Linked DNA regions of Homo sapiens: region 2 is linked to region 1. Evidence: fine-mapped expression QTL. A gene starts in region 1. The other region holds a variant in brackets. All regions are shown on one strand. Distances are from middle to middle. Region 1 holds the start of DNAH8 (dynein axonemal heavy chain 8). Region 2 overlaps DNAH8 (dynein axonemal heavy chain 8).

Region 1 (10,204 bases):
GCCTCCATACCAGCATTGGCCCCCGGACCCACCTTATGCACTCTTAACTTGTCTTTTCTCATTCCTTTGTATGGGCAAAGCCCAGGACCCCGGACTGGGGAGAAATGGAGGGACAGTTTTAGGAAGTGTTTGTGTAAGCAATTTTAGAATGAAGTCAGAAGAAAAAAAAAGAACTACATATAACTTTCTAAATTGCTGTGTTGTTTTTCTAGTAGAATGCTTGCCTTTGTATAATGATGATTGCTTGATTGTTAAACAGTAATCAGGTTATTAAAGCAATAATGAAGGACTGAGCCAGTCACCATGAGGTTTGGCTGCCAGTGAGAGTTAACAGCGTTTGATGTGCTTTCCCCTGCAGAGAGCCTATAGACGGACATGCAGGATGGGAGGTGACACATCACCCATATTCCTTTCTCAGGAAGGCATAAGTATTAAGGCCCTGGGAGAGGAATGCATCCCTTATGGAGAGCCTATAAATGGATGCATGAGGGATGTCTGTTTGGAAGTGAAAGCTTCAGTGGTTGAGATAAGGGCGTAAAGCTCTTCTTCTCCCACCACTCTCCTAGGCCTGCCCAGGGGCCCCTCCCCCAGGGAGAATTGTGGTCAGACTGGTCGTCTGGTTTCATGTCCCGTTCTTACTTGCCTACTGCGCAACCATCTTAAACATAGTTTATAGTTAAAGCCTGATCCTATTAAATTGCTGATGCATGCAACTAGCAGTTGGAACTCACAGTTCCGTATATCCGTACATCTTTACTGTGGACCTCACCCTATAATCATGTGATCCTCTCACCCCATGATCAGACCACCCTCTGCTCACTGCCCTTGCTCCCCCTCCCACATGTAAACTGATAATAAATGCTGGCTATTCCAGTGCTTGGATGACATTGCAGCTCCACATTGCGGTGATCCCCCTGGACCCAGCTTTCACAAACTCATCTCTGTTTGACCCACCTGGGATAAGAAAGAGAATCCATGTTGCTGGCGGGGCTGGTTCCCACTAGACCTTTGACTCCGCTGGACTTTGTAGCCCCCACGGCCTGGTGTTGGGTCTGATCACCCCAACAATTTCACCTTGAGATTTTTTACTTCATTACATCTTCAAAGATTTTTTTTTTCCAAATAAGGTCACATTCACAGGTCATGGTAATTAGGACTTAGACATATTGCCGAGTGCGGTGGCTCATGCCTGTAATCCCAGCACTTTGGGAGGCCAAGGTCGGCAGATCACCTGAGGTCAGTAGTTCAAGACCAGCCTGACCAACATGGTGAAACCCTGTCTCTACAAAAATACAAAAATTAGCCAGGCGTGATGTTGTGCACCTGTAGTCCCAGCTACTCAGGAGGCTGAGGCAGAAGAATCACTTGAACCAGGGAAACAGAGGTTGCAGTGAGCTGAGGTGGTGCTATTGCACTCCAGCCTGAGCAACAGAGTGAGACCTCCGTCTCAAAAAAAAAAAAAAAAAGACTTGGACATATTTTGTGGGGGGTACACAATTCAACCCATTACAAGGGACGTATACATGGCTTTTCTTTTTCATTGGTAATAATTTAAGATTAGGAAATCTGAGAATATGTTTAAAATACTTTTATGATTACATTTATTTTCCTTAATGAACATCATCTTATTAGTTGTGTAAACCAAAAATAAAATTGTAACCCCCTGCACCCTGCCGCCCCAACCATCTGAATGGACCCTTCCCCTCAGCCAAGGGTATGAAAAGGGTTATTGTGTCTGCACTCCATGAGACATGTATAAGAGACATGGTTTGAATAGCAAAAAAAAAAAAAGGAAGAAAAAATTGATAAAGGCTAAATGTCCAACCATAGGAAAATAGATAGGTTGAAAACTAGTGCAGGCCATGATGGAAGGAGGGGTTGGACATGCCTCATTATACCCTCATCCCTCTTGGAATTACTGGTAAGACACTCTTTAAGTCTGATAAGAAACATTTACAATCTATTTTCTCTGAAGCCTGCTACCTGGACCCTTCAACTGCATGATAAAACCTTGATCTCCACAACCCCTTATTGTAATCCACACATTTCTTTCTATTGATAATAACTCTTTCAACCAATTGCTAATCAGAAGATTTTTAAATCTACCTGTGGCCTGGAAGGCCCACCCCCATGTATTATGTCTCCCTAAAATGTATAAAAGCAAGGTGTAACCTGGCCACCTTGGGCACATGTCATCAGAACCTCCTGAGGCTATGTCATGGGTCCATCCTTAACGTTAGCAAAATATTTGCAAAATAAACTTTCTGAATTGATTGCAACCTGTCTCAGATACTTTTGGGTTCACAGTTGCTTAGGTTCTTATTGTCAGGTTTTTCAGGTTTCTGCACTGGCAGAGATTTTTGTTTGCAAGTAGAATGGACCACACTAAACAAGATATAAATGTGCCATTACAGCCACAAACTGATAATCCTTCAAGAAAAGCTCAAAGGAATGAGCTGTGGATAGTTATTTAATATTATATATGTTTTACTTGAATAACTGGTTACTTAAATTGTTATTTGATAATATGACCATGTGGTACTTTAGGATAATTATAACATAGCAAATATTGCTAATCTGTGCACCTTAATTGCATATTCCCTACAACACCTAGACATTTCCAATTGGTTGTTTTGACATTTTTATTTCGGTCAATAGTATCATCTTCCTCTCAATTGATGAGGCTTGAAACCAAACTCGTCATAGAGTTAGACATTTTTCGAACTGGAAGGGAACTTAGAGATTATCTCAACTCCCCCATTTCTTTTTACAAATAAGGACATCCAGTAATAGAGCAGTTTCACAATCTGAGGCTTAGTCGACTAAACGGTTATTTGTTGAGTAGCACAGTAACAGGACTCAGTTTCCCTGATTACCGGTTCAGTATTTTTCTTCACTACACACACTAATACTAAACTACTACAAATAACAGCTAGCATTGATTTAGCCATTACCATGTACTACTGTGCTAAGTGTTTTTATATGTGTTCCCTCATTGTATTTTCGGGGACACTTAATACTCAGGATCGTGGGCACTTAATGTCTTATATAAGTGCTGCATGGGGTTTACCTTCTGTTAAGCCTCAAGAGAACTCTGTGGAAGGTACAGTTTTCCTGTATCTCAGGCATTCTCAGGGTTGCTATCATTTGGCAGTATTCCATGAAGCTAGTTTTCTGCCAGAGTTAATGAAACTATTGCATGGATCACGGTGCTACAAACCTAATACAGCAACACATGTCTTTAGAACCAAAGCTCTGTCCATATTTAGTATTATTTCTTAGGAATATATTTTCAAAAGAGGCATTTGTAGGTTAAGGCATATGAATGAATATATTTAAGGCTCTTTATTAAGGAATATGGTATTCTGGTTTGTTTCTTACTACATGAGAATAGAGAGACAGCATAGGGACAGGAAAAGAAGGCAAGTATAAAACCTGCCCCAGCTCCATCAGTGCCAAAAGTAAACAATGAGATTCGATGGACAAGAGGTAGAGCACTTGTCCTCAACACTACCTCAACAAATGGCAGGAGTATCATATGGGAGGCCGGTTCCCCCAACCCCAAGTCCCAATGGGCAACCCCGTGGACCCAGATGCAGGCAGTGGACTGGGAGGCAGGTAAAGAATCTAGGGCTAAGTGCTCAGTATCTTTTGTATCGAGCAGTAAACAAGCTAGTCCCTCTCCCCAGGAAGTGAGCAATTGTGCCTTTTCGTGCCGTGGTTGCTGTGGCCTGCTGAGTTGCCTAAAGATTGGTTAAGGAAGTGGCTCAGAGTTAGAGGGTAGGTAGGTCTTGCATTTCGGCACAGTCAGCAAGGATATTCAGGAACTCCCTTGCTCCCATAAGCTTATATTGTATAATCACTGAGTAATGTCTATTAATATGGATGGACCATGGTTTATTTAATTTGTGATTTTTTATATTCATTCTTGTTTTTTTTTTCAGTTGACAGACCTTTCAGTCCTCATTCCACATTGATCTGCTCTACATTCAAAGACTGACTTTCACACCTGTAAGACAAAATAGTTTATGTAAGAAGCTATATTTGCTCATTCTGCTTGCCAGCAGAATGTCAGAGAATTCTTTGGCAGCTACATTTCACAAATCCCCTAACTCAGTGACTAAGTGCAGCCCCTGGAAGAATGCCCCTGAAGATGATAACATCTCTTGCATGAATCTTTTCTTGCAAAAGTTCCAGGATCCTAACTCATGCCTCTTCCTGTACATAATAAGATAATAGCTGATAGGATTAATGATTATGCCTCTACAATCTATAACCAGATGTACCCTTGAACCCCACCCTTGATGAGATTTTGCTCTAATGTAACTGCTGAGCTCATTTGATGTAACTGCTGAGCACATCTGATGCCACTTCCCATCACATGCCACCACCTGTACCTAAGCTTTGGAGCAGTCTCACAGAAAGTCTCTGAAAGACTCTCCGGATTGCAATCCTTAGTAAGACATCTGAATAAAACTAATATTAATTATTTAAATGACTGATTTTTTTTTCTTTGGTTAACACACCCAACTAAAAACGGACCGCTCACATCATGTCAGGCAGTCACAGCAAAAGCAGAACCGTACTAGAGAGGGGAGGGGGTGGACTTGGGAGAGAAGTCAGTTTTCCCCCAGAATCTTTCTCTCTCATCAGTCACAGGTTTCTGAACACACTGACTCACCAGGAAACACTTTTTAGGTTCTCAAGGAAAACACTAAGTAACTTCAGAAACTGTAAAGGTCATAGAAAACATTATTTTATATATTTCCGTATTACCACGTATACGCGGGAATCCTCCCAAGCCCCTGGCACCGCACTCCAAATGTCCATCTCCAGGAACCCGCCCTTCAGTGCCTGGGGTCCCCTAAACAATGTTTCAGTCCTCGGGCTCGGTGGGTGCATCCTTTATTGGGGAGCGCGGGGGCTGCCCGTGCCCCTCCAGTCGCTCCCCGTAGGGAGCTGCGCACTGCGGAGCCCTCGCCCCCGAGCGAGCCTGTCTCGGACTCCCAACCGTCAGCCTCGTTCCGGGCCGCGGAGGCCGGAGCAGCTCCCCCGGGGCAGCGCAACCGCTGGGGCCGGCCTCAGTGGGCTGAGTGGTCGGGGCATCGGGGCCCAGAGAGCGGCTGGTGAGTACTTGGTCGGAGCGCGCTGTGAGCGCCCGGCCCCTGTCCGGGAGGCCCTGATGCAGCCGGGTTCCCCGCCCACTTTCCTTCTTTTTAGGGGACTGGAATCCACGCTACAGTTCAGTCCTCCACCTCTGTTAGTTGAACCCAGGGAACCCCTGCTTCAAAACCCCAGCTGAGTCACTACCCTTTGTCAGTCTCTACACTGGACATCTAAGTGACTTCACACCCACTCCCCGTTTTGAGACTAGAAAACCAAATACCGCACGTTCTCACCTATGAGTAGGAGCTAAGCTATTGCTACGCAAAGGCATCCAGAGGGGTATAGTGGACTTCGGAGACTCAGAAGGGGAAGGGTGGGAGGGGGGTGAGGGATGAAACAACTACATATCGCTTGCAATGTATGCTACCTGGATGACCCTGAAGTCTCAGACTTCACCACTATCCAATGCATCCATGTAAAAAAACCACCTGTACCCGAAAAGCTATTAAAATAAATAAATAAATAAATAAATATATATATATATATATATATATATATATATATATTTTTTTTTTTTTTTTGAGACGGAGTCTCACTCTGCCGCCCAGGCTGGAGTGCAGTGGTGCGATCTCGGCTCACTGCAATTTCTGCCTCCCTGGTTCAAGCCATTCTCCTGCCTCAGCCTCCCGAGTAGCTGGGGCTACAGGCACCCGCCATCACGCCCGGCTAATTTTTTTTGGTATTTTCAGTGGAGACGGGGTTTCACAGTGTTAGCCAAGATGGTCTCGATCTCCTGACCTTGTGATCCGCCCACCTCGGCCTCCCAAAGTGCTGGGATTACAGGCATGAGCCACCACGCCCGGCCATATACCTATATATTTTTAAAAATTCAAAAATAAAACAAAAAAAATGCCTCTCCCTCCGGCTTATTTCCCGTTCCTCTACCCTTCTCATTCCCCTCTAGCCCAAAAGTCTCATCACTGAATTTACCACTTTTCCCAAGATAGTTGTGCCTCTTTTTGCTTCTCTGCTTTTGTACGCCACTGTTCCCACCTTCTGCCTATAATGTTTCTCTCTCCCATCCTCTCCTGACAACTCTTCTTTAGACCCGACTCGGGTGGTACCTTCTCCGTCAAGTTTTCTTTCTTTCTTTTTTTGTTTTTCAGAAGTTTTGCTGCCTGCTAAGCTCTCTTAGCCCTTCGTTAATTCACCTGTCATTGACATTGACCATCTTGTGTTGTATTCAATAGTCTGTCACACCAATTTGATTGTGCATTTTGCTTTGGAGAAGTCCTTAGTCTTTTATGTAGCCACAGTGGCCAGACATGCAGAAGACGTTCAATATTGCTGAATGAACTAATGCATTTGGGATAGGGTTACAGAAATGGGTGCAAGAGAAAAGGGTGTGGTTGAATTGGCTGTACCCAGCACACAGGTATGCAACTTGCTCACTTACTGTAGTATTCCTAGGAGGGGAGGAGTTCAACACCTGGAAATGCTCCTGAAAATAACCAGGATGCATTTCTTGTTGACTTTGCAGAAGTTCACTGAATCCTTAAAATTTAACTTAAGAAGGGATGGTGGGAATTGAAAATGATTGCATCCAGCCTGGGCAGCATAGTGAGATCCCATCTCTACAGAAAAACCAAAACCCAAACCAAAAAAGAACAGCCAAGTGTGATTGTGTACGCCTTTAGTCCTAGCTACTTGGGAGGCTGAGGTAGGAGGATCGCTTGAGCCCAGGAGGTGAGGACTGCAATGAGCTGTGCTCACATGACTGTACTCCAGCCTGCACAACAGAGCAAGTTGTCTGTGAAGGAGAGAAGGACCCAGAGAAAGTGAACAAGTGTTGATGCCACATTCACTCTGTGTGCTTTGCATCAGCAGAATGTGAATGCTTGGGGGTAGATTCGTAGGGAATTTCAGGTCTTATTTATTTATTTTTTAAGATAGGTTCTCACTCTGTCACCCAGACTGGAGTGCAGTGGCGCCATCTTGGCTCACTGCAGCCTTGACCTCCTGGGCTCAAGCTATCTTCCCTCCTCAGCCCTCGAAGTAGCTGGGACTACAGGTGCACGCCACCACGCCCGGCTAATTTTTTGCATTTGTTGTCAAGACTGGGTTTCTCCATGTTGCCCAGGCTAGTCTCAAACTCCTGAGCTTGAGCTCAGGAGTTTGTATGTTACAGTATATGATATGCACAGATGTAATACAACTAAAATGTACACATGATTTTTTTTTTTTTTTTAGAAAAGAACCATACAGAAAGTTAGGAAATTGGAAAGTAAAAATTCTTCTTCTACTTCCCTTCTTCAATTTCTTTCACTCAGAGTGATTCTTATTAATAATTTATTGTGTATTCTCCCTAGAAAGCTTATAATGTACTTTATCAAATCTAAACTATTACTGATTACAATTTTTTTGCAATTCTGTACATGCAAATTAGGTATTTTATGTAACTGCATAAAGAAAAAAATGCTGAGAAACAAAAAAATGCTGCATATTAAACCTTCTTAAAGTATGCATCTTAGAATTGATGAAATACCGTATATACACATATACACACTTTAAAAATTTTATGCGAGTGGTGTTATTATGCAATGTGTCTTGCTTTTTATGTAACGATGTGTCTTGGAGAGTTTTACATATCTGCATATATAGCTCTACCTCATTCTTTGTATCGCTAATGATGCATTAAAATTTTATTGAACAAGGGTAGTACAGAACAATTAGTGGGCCCTTCATTAAGGGACATCTTGGTTGTTTCCAAGGTGTGGGTATGTGTCTGTGTGTTTTCTTGCTTGTTTTTGCTATTACAAACATGTTGTAGTGAACCACCAACCTTGTGTGTATGTGTGTCTGTATATATATTGTATATCTATCTATATATAGTTGGTAAGATTTTTTCATTTTTGCTACAGTTTTTAGGAATTCCTCTATATAAAGTAGTTGCATACATCTTCTAACCTAAAATTAAATAATTGCATCACTCTTATAAGTTGATAAGTTGATCTTTTAGTATTTAGAGTTTGTTACCTGCCAAGCAATATTTGACACTCAAAAACCATGTAGAAAATGCATCTCAAATTACAGTATTTCATTAGAGGGAAAGTTATATGATTTCCTTAAGGAAAATCTCTCCAAAATGGCAGTGGTCATGTATTTATATATTTATTTTGGGAATCTTAGCTATATGATCTATTTTAACAAAATTTAAACTATAACAAATTATTTATAATTTATTTTTTTCTGAGTCACAATAGGGATTAATCCCTGATTATCAATTTTCAGTGTTCACAGACACTTGTATTCGCAGAAACAGAGTCTGTATGTCAGTGTTCACAGTCACAAAAGTCTGCTTGTATAAAAACCACATTTATTATTTATCTTAACAGATTCTGAATCCTTGCTGTTTGTGGTCTTTTGGAAGAATGAATATGATATGATGTCGTTCTAAACTTTTTTTCCCAACCAAATTTTCCCTGCTTTGACCTGTTCATAGCTTTTTATAGTTTACCTCTTTACTTCTCTGTTTAAATTTCTTCCCTCTGCTTCTTGTTGACTCCTACTTATCCTTTAAGGCCAACTAATGTTCAAATCCTCCATGAAATCCTCTTTGTCTATTTTGTCCACGTTTCTCTCTTCCTTCTTTAAATTCCTTTTTCAGCAGAACATCACAATTTAACATTCTTGATTGATTCATATAGGTTACTTTATCTCCTAAATGAGACTGAATTCTTCAGGAATTCTTGTCTGGGCTGGATTTCAGGCAAGACATCTAGGGGGTGCTACATTAGCTGTGGTTGCTGAGCACTTGTGGCTTGAAGTAGTCTTTTTTTCTGACTTTTATTTTGGATTCAGAGGATACATGTGAAGATTTCTTACAAAGGTTTATTGCATGATGCTGAGGTTTGGAGTATGATTAAACCTGTCACCCAGATAGTGAGCATAGTACCCAATAGGTAGTTTTCCAACCCTAACCCCCATCCTTCCCTTCCCCTTCTTGTACCCCCAGTGTCTCTTGTTTCCATCTTTATGTCCATGTATCCCCAGTGTTTAGTCCCTACTTATAAGTGTGAACATGAGGTATTTGGTTTTCTGTTTCTGTGTTAGTTCACTTAGGATAATGGCCTCTAGCTGCATACATGTTGCTTCAGAGGACATGTGTTTTTTTTATGGCTGCATAGTATTCCATGGTATATATTTCTTCATCCAATCCACTGTGAAGTTGTATTCTTAAGACAAGAGGCAGGGCTTCTCCAGAGACCTGGAGGGGGTGTAGCTAATGCAGCTGATCATTACAGCTCATTCCCTCTAGCATCAGAGGAATGCCTGGGCTGCTGTTTCACAGATAGACGCCTATTCTGCCCAGCATTAGAGTTGCCACCAAAGATTTTTACTGCGAATGGGCTAACCATTAAGCTGCAGCCCTAAAACCCTACCAAGCTCAAAAATGCACCCTGACATTGTGTTTCAAAATGGTGGCACAGAAGCAAGCTGGCTGTTTCTTCTCCCTTACCACCAGAAAATGGAAACAAATACACAATGTTAAGATTATCACCAACAATATCCCAAAACTCAGATATAAGGATGAGATCATTTCCAGTACCACAGAGAAGTGAAAAAACCTCTAAGCAGATGGTAAGAGAATTGGACTTTCATAGCATGACACTCCTTACCTCAGTCTGCCTGGCACCAGGCAAATGGAAAATTTCTCCCAGTCTTACGGTTTCTCTAATGGGAAAAGTGAGATTGAAGTGGACAACCAACTTTCCTACCATCCTGGGTTTCATGGCAGGAGACCTGTTCTTGCCTCAAACCACAGGAAGTATCAGCAGTGCTAAAGGGAGAAATATCCCTGAGGACAGCCAGAGATGAAGGAGGGAGATAGGACTACCATCCCCATTCCTGGAAACTCTGCTCTGTAACTTGGCCAAAGAAGACACCAAATCAGAGTTGCTGTTTGGCAGTACCATGCTGTGGGAAGCTCATCCCACAGTTCCCTTAAGCATGAACCCCTAGCCAGCATTCCCACACTGCTGGGATAATCCTTTTAGGACTTCCCCCATTTTGGATGGGCAGCAATCTGATTGTTTAC
Region 2 (8,000 bases), 68 kb after region 1:
GCAGAGGGAGAGTCAATGTGTTCTCTTCCATCTTTGCTAAGCCATCTCCTCACTCATCTTGTAATCTGTTTGTCATTTTCTCAGGGTGTCTTACTTGAATCCCCAGACTTGTCTAGGTCTCTCTTAGTTATAGGCATTTCTGACCCATTTGTAATTTAAATAATTATTTTTGTTACTCTTGGCAGATGTCTGTCTTTTCCATAAGATAATTGTGGGTTCCAAGAGAACCAGGACTGTACCTCCTATCTCGTTCATTGCTTTGTCCTAGGACAACGAATGAGGGCTGGTATGAATATTTGTCAAATGAATGAATGGATGGTTAGTATGACAGCAAGTCTTAAGTATATTTCTCATTTACTTTTTAACCATTCAGCTTTGATTACTTTTAGGTTTCAGAAGCTGAACATTCCCTGTCTGGGATTAGAAATAAACCACACAATAGAGCGTATTCTTCAGTACTATGTGGCTGAACTTGATGCTACTAAGAAGGCAAGTGTCATGTTTATAAATAAAATGGTACATTAGCACAAAAAGAAAAAAAATCTGAAAATATTTGCCATCATTGTCTCATGCCAAGCTTTTCAGAGTGATTCTTTCTCTGCTAAGGAGCATTGACGCTCCCTTCTGTGTGGGAAGGTGCTTGACAGTGTATATTGCTGGACAGCCAGATTTACTCCTCTTTGCTGTGATCTTACCAGTTATCCCACCATTATTTATTGAGTAGGAAGTCCTTTTCTCATTGTTTGTTTTTGTCATTGCTGAGTATGTACCCAAAGGAATACAAATCATTCTGTCATAAAGACACATGCACGCATATGTTCATTGCAGCACTATTCACAATAGCAGAGATATGGAATCAACCCAAATGCCCATCAATGGTAGACTGGGTAAAGAAAAGGTGGTAGATACACCATGGAATGTTATGCATCCAAAAAAAAAATGAATGAGATCATGTCCTTTGCAGGAACATGGACGAAGCTAGAGGCTATTATCCTAAGCCAACTAGTGCAGGAACAGAAAACCGAATACCACATGTTCTCACTTATAAGTGGGAGCTAAACATTGAGTACACATGGACACAAAGAAGGGAACAGTAGACACTGGGGCCTACTGGAGGGTGGGAGAAGGGAGAGGATCAGGAAAAGCAACTAATGGACACTAAGCTTAACACCTGGGTGATGAAAAAATCTGTACAACTAATCCTCATGACACGAGTTTACCTATATAACAAACAAACAAACAAACATGTAACCCTGAACTTAAAATAAAAGTTAAAAAAAAACTATCATATTGCCCCCGTTTTCTGGTGTGTGTATAGCAAAGCCCGTTTAAGTTAGTATTTTTGCCTATAGAAATATGGGCTCTAGATACTATTATGACAGATATTAATATGTAGCTATGTGCTCCGTTTGAATACCTCCTTGAAATTTGGGATAAGGGCAGAAAAAAAATACATGTAATAGGAAATAAAGGTGAAGAGAAAATTAAGTGTCGTATATGGTCAACATCATTGTTTCAAAATCTCAGGTTACCTTGGATGTGCATTTACATATTTATTGACTACCTACTGTATATAAAACATGAATAATGATAAAACAATACAAATATAGCTGTATATATTTTTTGCCTTCTCCCTTGTATTGAATTCAAACATTAACATCAGATTTTTAATTACAGCTTTATCATTCTCAGAAAGATGACCCCCCTCTTGCTCGCAACATGCCCCCTATAGCAGGAAAAATACTCTGGGTGAGGCAGCTCTATCGCCGGATAAGTGAGCCCATCAATTATTTCTTTGTAAGCCAAGAATTAAATTTTAATATGTGGATTTTGGTGGTTTTAATATAACAAATATATCATATCCTATAATATTTGTGTGCATTAAAGTAGCCAACAACGAGCCAATTCTTTTACCAGGCAAGGAAAATTTAGTTTATAAATATACTTGAGAGAGACAAAGTCAATTCCTTCAGGTTTAGTAGATAAGCCAGTCTAATTACAGTTATCTCAAAGTCAGTGAATCTTATAATTTTATGTCTTTTAATAACACAGGACACTTTGTAAAGCCTTTTAAAAAGTAAAAATAAAAAATTTGAAAACAATAAAGTACAGGCCTAGCACAGAAGCTTACTTCTGTGTATGGGCAGATAGGTCACTGATACATACTCAGTGAAGGTGAAGATAAAGCCAAAGAGTGTATTCCTGTATGAAGAACTGCCACTGAGAGCGGAATATAATACAGTTGATTCATTCTCTATGTCCTTCAGATTATTAGATTTCTGAAAAACAGGACAGTCTTGGGCCCTGTTGGCATTCTGAAATTGCCAGTTTGTCTTTTCTTTGTCCTTATTATTTTCTTAAATTTTATTTAAGAGACAGAGTCACAAGGTGGAGTTGGTTTGCTTGATCTCGTGCCCTTTGCTGAAATATAGAACAATATAACTACAAAACAGTAGTTTTGCAAGTAATTGTATTATTTCAGCATTATTAAATATGAAGATTCTGTTGTTTCTCTTTTGCTGCCATCATTTGTGTCATTGTTCTGAATATCAAAAAAAAATTAAAACCCTGAGTCCCTACTCGGGGGACTCAGTTGCTGATTGACTTTGTGGTGAGAGGGCAGAGATTGCCCTGTTTGACATGTGAATCGAAACCTAAATCTTTTGATTTTTAAATAAAGAAATTTTATTTATTTTTTAAATATTTATTTATTTATTTATTTATTATGGAGTTTTGCTCTCTCGCCCAGGCTGGAGTGCAGTGGCGCAGTCTCGGCTCACTGCAACCTCCGCATCCTGGGTTCAAGCAATTCTCCTGCCTCAGCCTCTGGAGTAGCTGGGATTACAGGCACCCACTACCATGCCTGGCTAATTTTTTTGTATTTTTAGAGAGACAGCGTTTCACTATGTTGGCGAGGCAGGTCTCCAACTCCTGACTTCAGGTAATCCACCTGCCTTGGCCTCCCAAAGTGCTGGGATTACAGGCGTGAGCTACGGCACCCGGCCAAGAAATTTTATTTTTATCGTTTGATACATGGTTACCTTTTTTTGCGTGCTGGAATTTAGGAATTTGCCCTGTTATTCATGGTTCAAGGAACATCAGTCAATTATATCTTGTCCAGAACAGTGGGATGGGATCAGAAAAGGAGGTAGAGACACTGAATGCCTGGGGCAGGCTGTGGGGCTGGAGGCCTCTCTCTTTCTAAACCCTTTGTTTCCTTTTCCAGTCTTCCCTCTATATACTGATAACGTTTCCCTACTTCTGCTTCTTGCTGATATGGCCTTCCCCATCTCTGTTTTACTGTGAGGCAGAATCTAAACTGGTAGCATAATTATTTGATATCATTTTACATATAAGTACTTTCATTATTTGGATATAAAAACATTCAGCAGTCTTTTAAAGTAAATCTTTTCCCTTAAAAAAACAGAAAAACTCAGACATTTTATCAAGTCCGGACGGTAAAGCTGTCATCCGTCAGTATAACAAGATCTCCTATGTGCTGGTGGAATTCGAGGTGGTCTATCACACAGCCTGG[A/G]TCAGAGAGATTTCACAGTTGCATTACGGTGTGTATAACACTGCCATGAGCCTACAAAGTAGGGATTAGGTGATTTTGAATGAGTTCATAGTTCTGGAGAACTTTTTCCATCCCTTCCACATAATCTTAGGATAGTTACAATTTAGATTTAGGGATGCTACAGTGGTTTATTTGTTTACAGTTGTTAATAATATTCTGATTTTATAAGTGAAAATGATCATGACCTTGAAGATGACATACTTAACTTAGGACTTTCTACCAAAAACCAGTATTTGAAAGTAAAAATATCTTTAGGGATATTTCTCCAGACTTTATGAAAGTGTTCATATTCAGTTGTATCATGATATAGATTCAAATCTCAGTCCCATTCTGGAGAGAAAAAATTGCATCCTGCCTTCTTTCCTCTCTCCCTGCTTCCCTTCCTTCCTGTGTCTCTCCTTTACTTTCTCCCTTTTTTATTACTGAATTTAATTTCAGGTTTGAGCTCCAGTAAATGAAGCGTTTTAGTGCACTGTGTCTGCGTGCCTCTGAGGGGAGGGCTTATGTGTTGCCAAGGCTTTGGGCGGAGTTAAATGTGAGACGGGATGGTTCTTAGCCATTATCCAGCCCTCCTGGATGTTGTTTTTGTGTGGGCTCAATGGTTGGTCAGTTCAGATTCCTGCTTTGTCTCATCTTAACCTTAAACTCTTAGTTATAATCTCAACCCTAAACTCTTATACGTGACCTTGGTGGACCCCTTACTGGGTCCCTTGGTAGAAAGGTTTCTCCCTCCCAAACCAGCGTCTCCACCTCAGCAGAGCACAGCATTGCAGGCGCAGGAAGCACAAGTTCTGCAGGTGGGTTGCTGGAACGGTGGTGAGAGGAGTCACTCCTACTTCTGCCTCTTGGTTCCAGAACTCATGTATTTTAGCTGTGTGGGGACACAGCACTTATTTACAGGCCATTGATTCACAGCATACCTGCATCCTAGAGGACAGTGCCCCAACCCCCGCAGGGTGTCGTCCCTAACAGGAACCGTAGGTAAGCCTTTAATAAGCCACTTTTATCAGGCCAGCTGTTTCTGGGTGCTGTGCTATATGGTAGGACCCTGTGGACTCTAAAGAAAGCCTGTTTATGGAGCAGAACTCTCAAAGGAGCTTCGAGAGGAGCTTAAAACTCAGACTATGGAAAAAGGCAAAAGAGAATTTTTAACAACTGAAGCATATACTGGTTTTGTTTTGGTTCTACAATGCCGCGCACTTAATTTTCTTTTTCTCCTGGTGGTTTTTCTACCCCCAATACCCTTTCTCTTATCTGCACATATTCAAAAACAAGCTCTACAGTCACCTGTTTCATACAGCCTTTCCTTATTCTTCCTGGCAGAAAATAATAATTCCTCCAGAGCCCACCATATACTTTATCTGTAGCTCTTTCTCAGGACACTTACTGCTTTATAGATCTACCTTGTGTCCCCTACACCTTCCAAGGTTACCCTCTATGTCTGTTTCATCTGATATCCTTTAAAAAATGGTCATAGCTAACATTTATACAGTGCTCACCATGTGCCAGGCTTTGTCTCAGCACATTACATGTATTATGCAAATTACTTTAATCCTAACAGCAAACCTACAAGGAACTATTATTAGCCTTGTTTTACAGATGAGAAAACTGAGACACTGACACATTAAGTGGCTTGCCCAAGATCACACAGCTCATTCAAATTCAGATAGTCTGGCTTCCAAATCCGTTCTCTTAACCATTTAAAATACTGTACTGTTTCTAACAGTGTCAAGAATGATGCCAGGCATGCTTGGGGGCTCTTAAAATATTTTAAAAATGTCCAATAAGTAGACATTAGACAATCTTGATGAGTAATAATTTTATCAAGTTTTCAGAAGAGTTTGTTCCCCTTGAGAACATCAGTTGGCCTCTATTGGGTGCACTATACTCATTGCAGTGGATTGATGTCCAGGAGAAGTGATCACATACAAACAATATGAAGTAGAATTCTTTCATACTTTCAATATGAAGTAGAATTCTTTCGTGTTTTTTCACAAGTAAAACAAACAGTCAGTAGAATTCTTTAACTTCTTTCATTTCATTTCAGAAATGAATTGCTCTGGAAGGCTTCCTTTGTCCTAGTGATGTGACTGTACTTGGCCACATAGGAGCTTCTAGTAATAATTGGATATGTAGCATCAGCCTCCTTTAGTTGGTTGCTCAGTAAAGTTTCTCTGATGGTGGTTCACATACGATGAAATGCTTGTCTTGTCCTGGAGCAGACTTCCTGACTGTCATTATTGGTCTGTTTTAGTTGTCTTGACCTTTTTGTCTTTTCAAGCAAGCTCAGTACAGTTTTAAGGAAGACAGATTTAAATGTTCAAAAGTTCTTTTGGAATTTCCTTGGTAGGATAAGTGATTTATTTATTTATTTATTTTTATTTTACTTTAAGTTCTGGGATTTCTGCACCTGTCCACCTGTCATCTAGATTTTAAGCCCCGCATGCATTAGGTACTTTGTCCTAATACTTTCCCTCCCCTTGCTCCCCACCCCCCGACAGGCCCTGGTGTGTGCCGTTCCCCTCCCTGTGTCCATGTGTTCTCATTGTTCAACTCCCACTTATGAGTGAGAACATGCAGTGCTTGGTTTTCTGTTAGGATAAGTGATTTCTAATCCATCTTAAAAAGATTCTAAGCGAGTTGGATAAAATTTTAAGTTGAAATTGTCATTTAGCTTGAAAACCTGCATCATTAAGGGCCATATCAAGACTAATTTTATCTGATGAGTAAAAGTCAACTAACTTCAAAGAGATATACAAACTATTTTATTTTACTAGAAGTTTGATGTGGCCACATTCAACAAAACAATGTGAGGTTTGGAAGATTTGGTAATTGTGATAAAATTCTCATGTTAGTAGTGTTTGTTAATACAAGATGTAATTCAAACTAGCACATGCTTGTCTATAATAAGTGTTTTATTATTATGCCTGTAGAAGTTCTTCATGTTAAGCTAACAAATAATCTAAGGCTACCCAGTAAGAACTGCTTGGGCTTATGTATTTCAATTCATAATAAAATAGATATCTGAAAATGCTTGTTTATATGAATGATGTTTATGTGAGATGTAGTGTAAAACATCTTCCCTCCTTTCCAGGATTTCACAACTCAATGGTATTTAATAAATATTTCTTACTGATTTTGAGCCTATTTATCAGAAATACAGGATGGAGATTTAATTTAAATAAGCCTCTTTAAAGAAGACAGTTTGGGGTCTGAGTGGGAAAGAGTTTGAAATGAGGTGGGGCATCTTTTGTGATTCTAACCATCTTCTGGTTCTTTCTCAGGGGTGAAGTCATAATCCATAAGATAAACTGACATAGACCTATTCAACCCACTCAGAAAAATATTGCAATTCATAGCACAAAGCACCATTCTTGGTCAATGTTTCTCTCCCTGGATCTGATTTTGTGGCTTTGCAGACACTCTTCATTCATTTATCTTAGTTTTGAGTATTCACTATGTGCCAGACGCTGTGCCTTAGCACCTGGGGCATCCAAAACATTTCCTTTGCCCTCAAGAAGTTAGTAATCCAGGGGGCAAGACAGAAATATAAACACAGCTGGAAGCAGAAAGGAAATTCAGAATGAGTAATGTCAATCATTATTTATTTGTAGCTTTACAAGCCACGCTTTTTGTGCGACATCCAGAAACAGGGAAGTTGCTGGTTAATTTCGATCCCAAAATTTTGGAAGTTGTTCGGGAAACTAAGTGTATGATAAAAATGAAGTTGGATGTACCAGAACAGGCAAAGAGATTGCTAAAATTGGAAAGTAAATTGAAAGCAGACAAACTGTATTTGCAGGTAAGATAGATTATGTTTTCTAATTATTTTTGAAGGAGTTTTTTGGTAAAAAAAATATGTATATATATATATATATCCCTGCAGTTATGCTTCATGGCATTGAGGGAAAATTTGTTAATATGTTGATTCTTGATAGAATTAAAATACTGACTTGCAAACCAAAGAAAAGATTGGAAATGGAAAGCAAAAAGTGAGAAGATTATCAGAAATCAGATTTAGGTTTCTGGATAATGACTGACGAAATAGCAAGTTTCAAAAACTATTCTTAATATAATTTTATAGATCTTGTGCATTAAATTTTATAATATACTTATCCTAGAATATTTATAAGATATAAATTAATAAAGTGGGGTGACTATACAATACAAGTAGAGGTGATTCTCAACATTGTGGGGCAAAAAGGAGCATTATTTCAATTAAAGTTCACTAGTGCGGCAAAGTAAAATCTAACAAAATGAAAATGGTAGGCAAAAACTGACATTAACATGTACTGCCGGGTGCAGTGGCTCATGCCTGTAATCCCAGCACTTTGGGAGGCCGAGGTGGGTGGATAACTTGAGGTCAGGAGTTCAAGACCAGTCTGGCTAACATGACGAAACTGGGTGTGGTGGTGCACGCTTGTAA

What was found. PIP is the estimated chance that this variant, and not a neighbour inherited with it, causes the effect.
Region 2: its variant is fine-mapped to the expression of DNAH8 in testis (GTEx, PIP above 0.99).

The regions. Positions count from the first base shown.
Region 1 is chr6:38,710,290-38,720,493 of GRCh38, forward strand. DNAH8 (dynein axonemal heavy chain 8) reads left to right here and starts at 5,022. Exons shown (of 93, transcript NM_001206927.2): 1 at 5,022-5,126. It overlaps DNAH8-DT (DNAH8 divergent transcript), which reads right to left and starts at 4,926. Exons shown (of 2, transcript NR_186581.1): 1 at 4,777-4,926; 2 at 3,881-4,009. RefSeq lists silencers at 5,009-5,058, 10,064-10,204.
Region 2 is chr6:38,779,577-38,787,576 of GRCh38, forward strand. It overlaps DNAH8 (dynein axonemal heavy chain 8), which reads left to right. Exons shown (of 93, transcript NM_001206927.2): 15 at 390-489; 16 at 1,678-1,797; 17 at 3,428-3,563; 18 at 7,189-7,376. Among named protein-coding and RNA genes, the nearest start is that of DNAH8, 68 kb to the left of the region's middle. The variant A/G (reference allele first, on the strand shown) is at 3,536.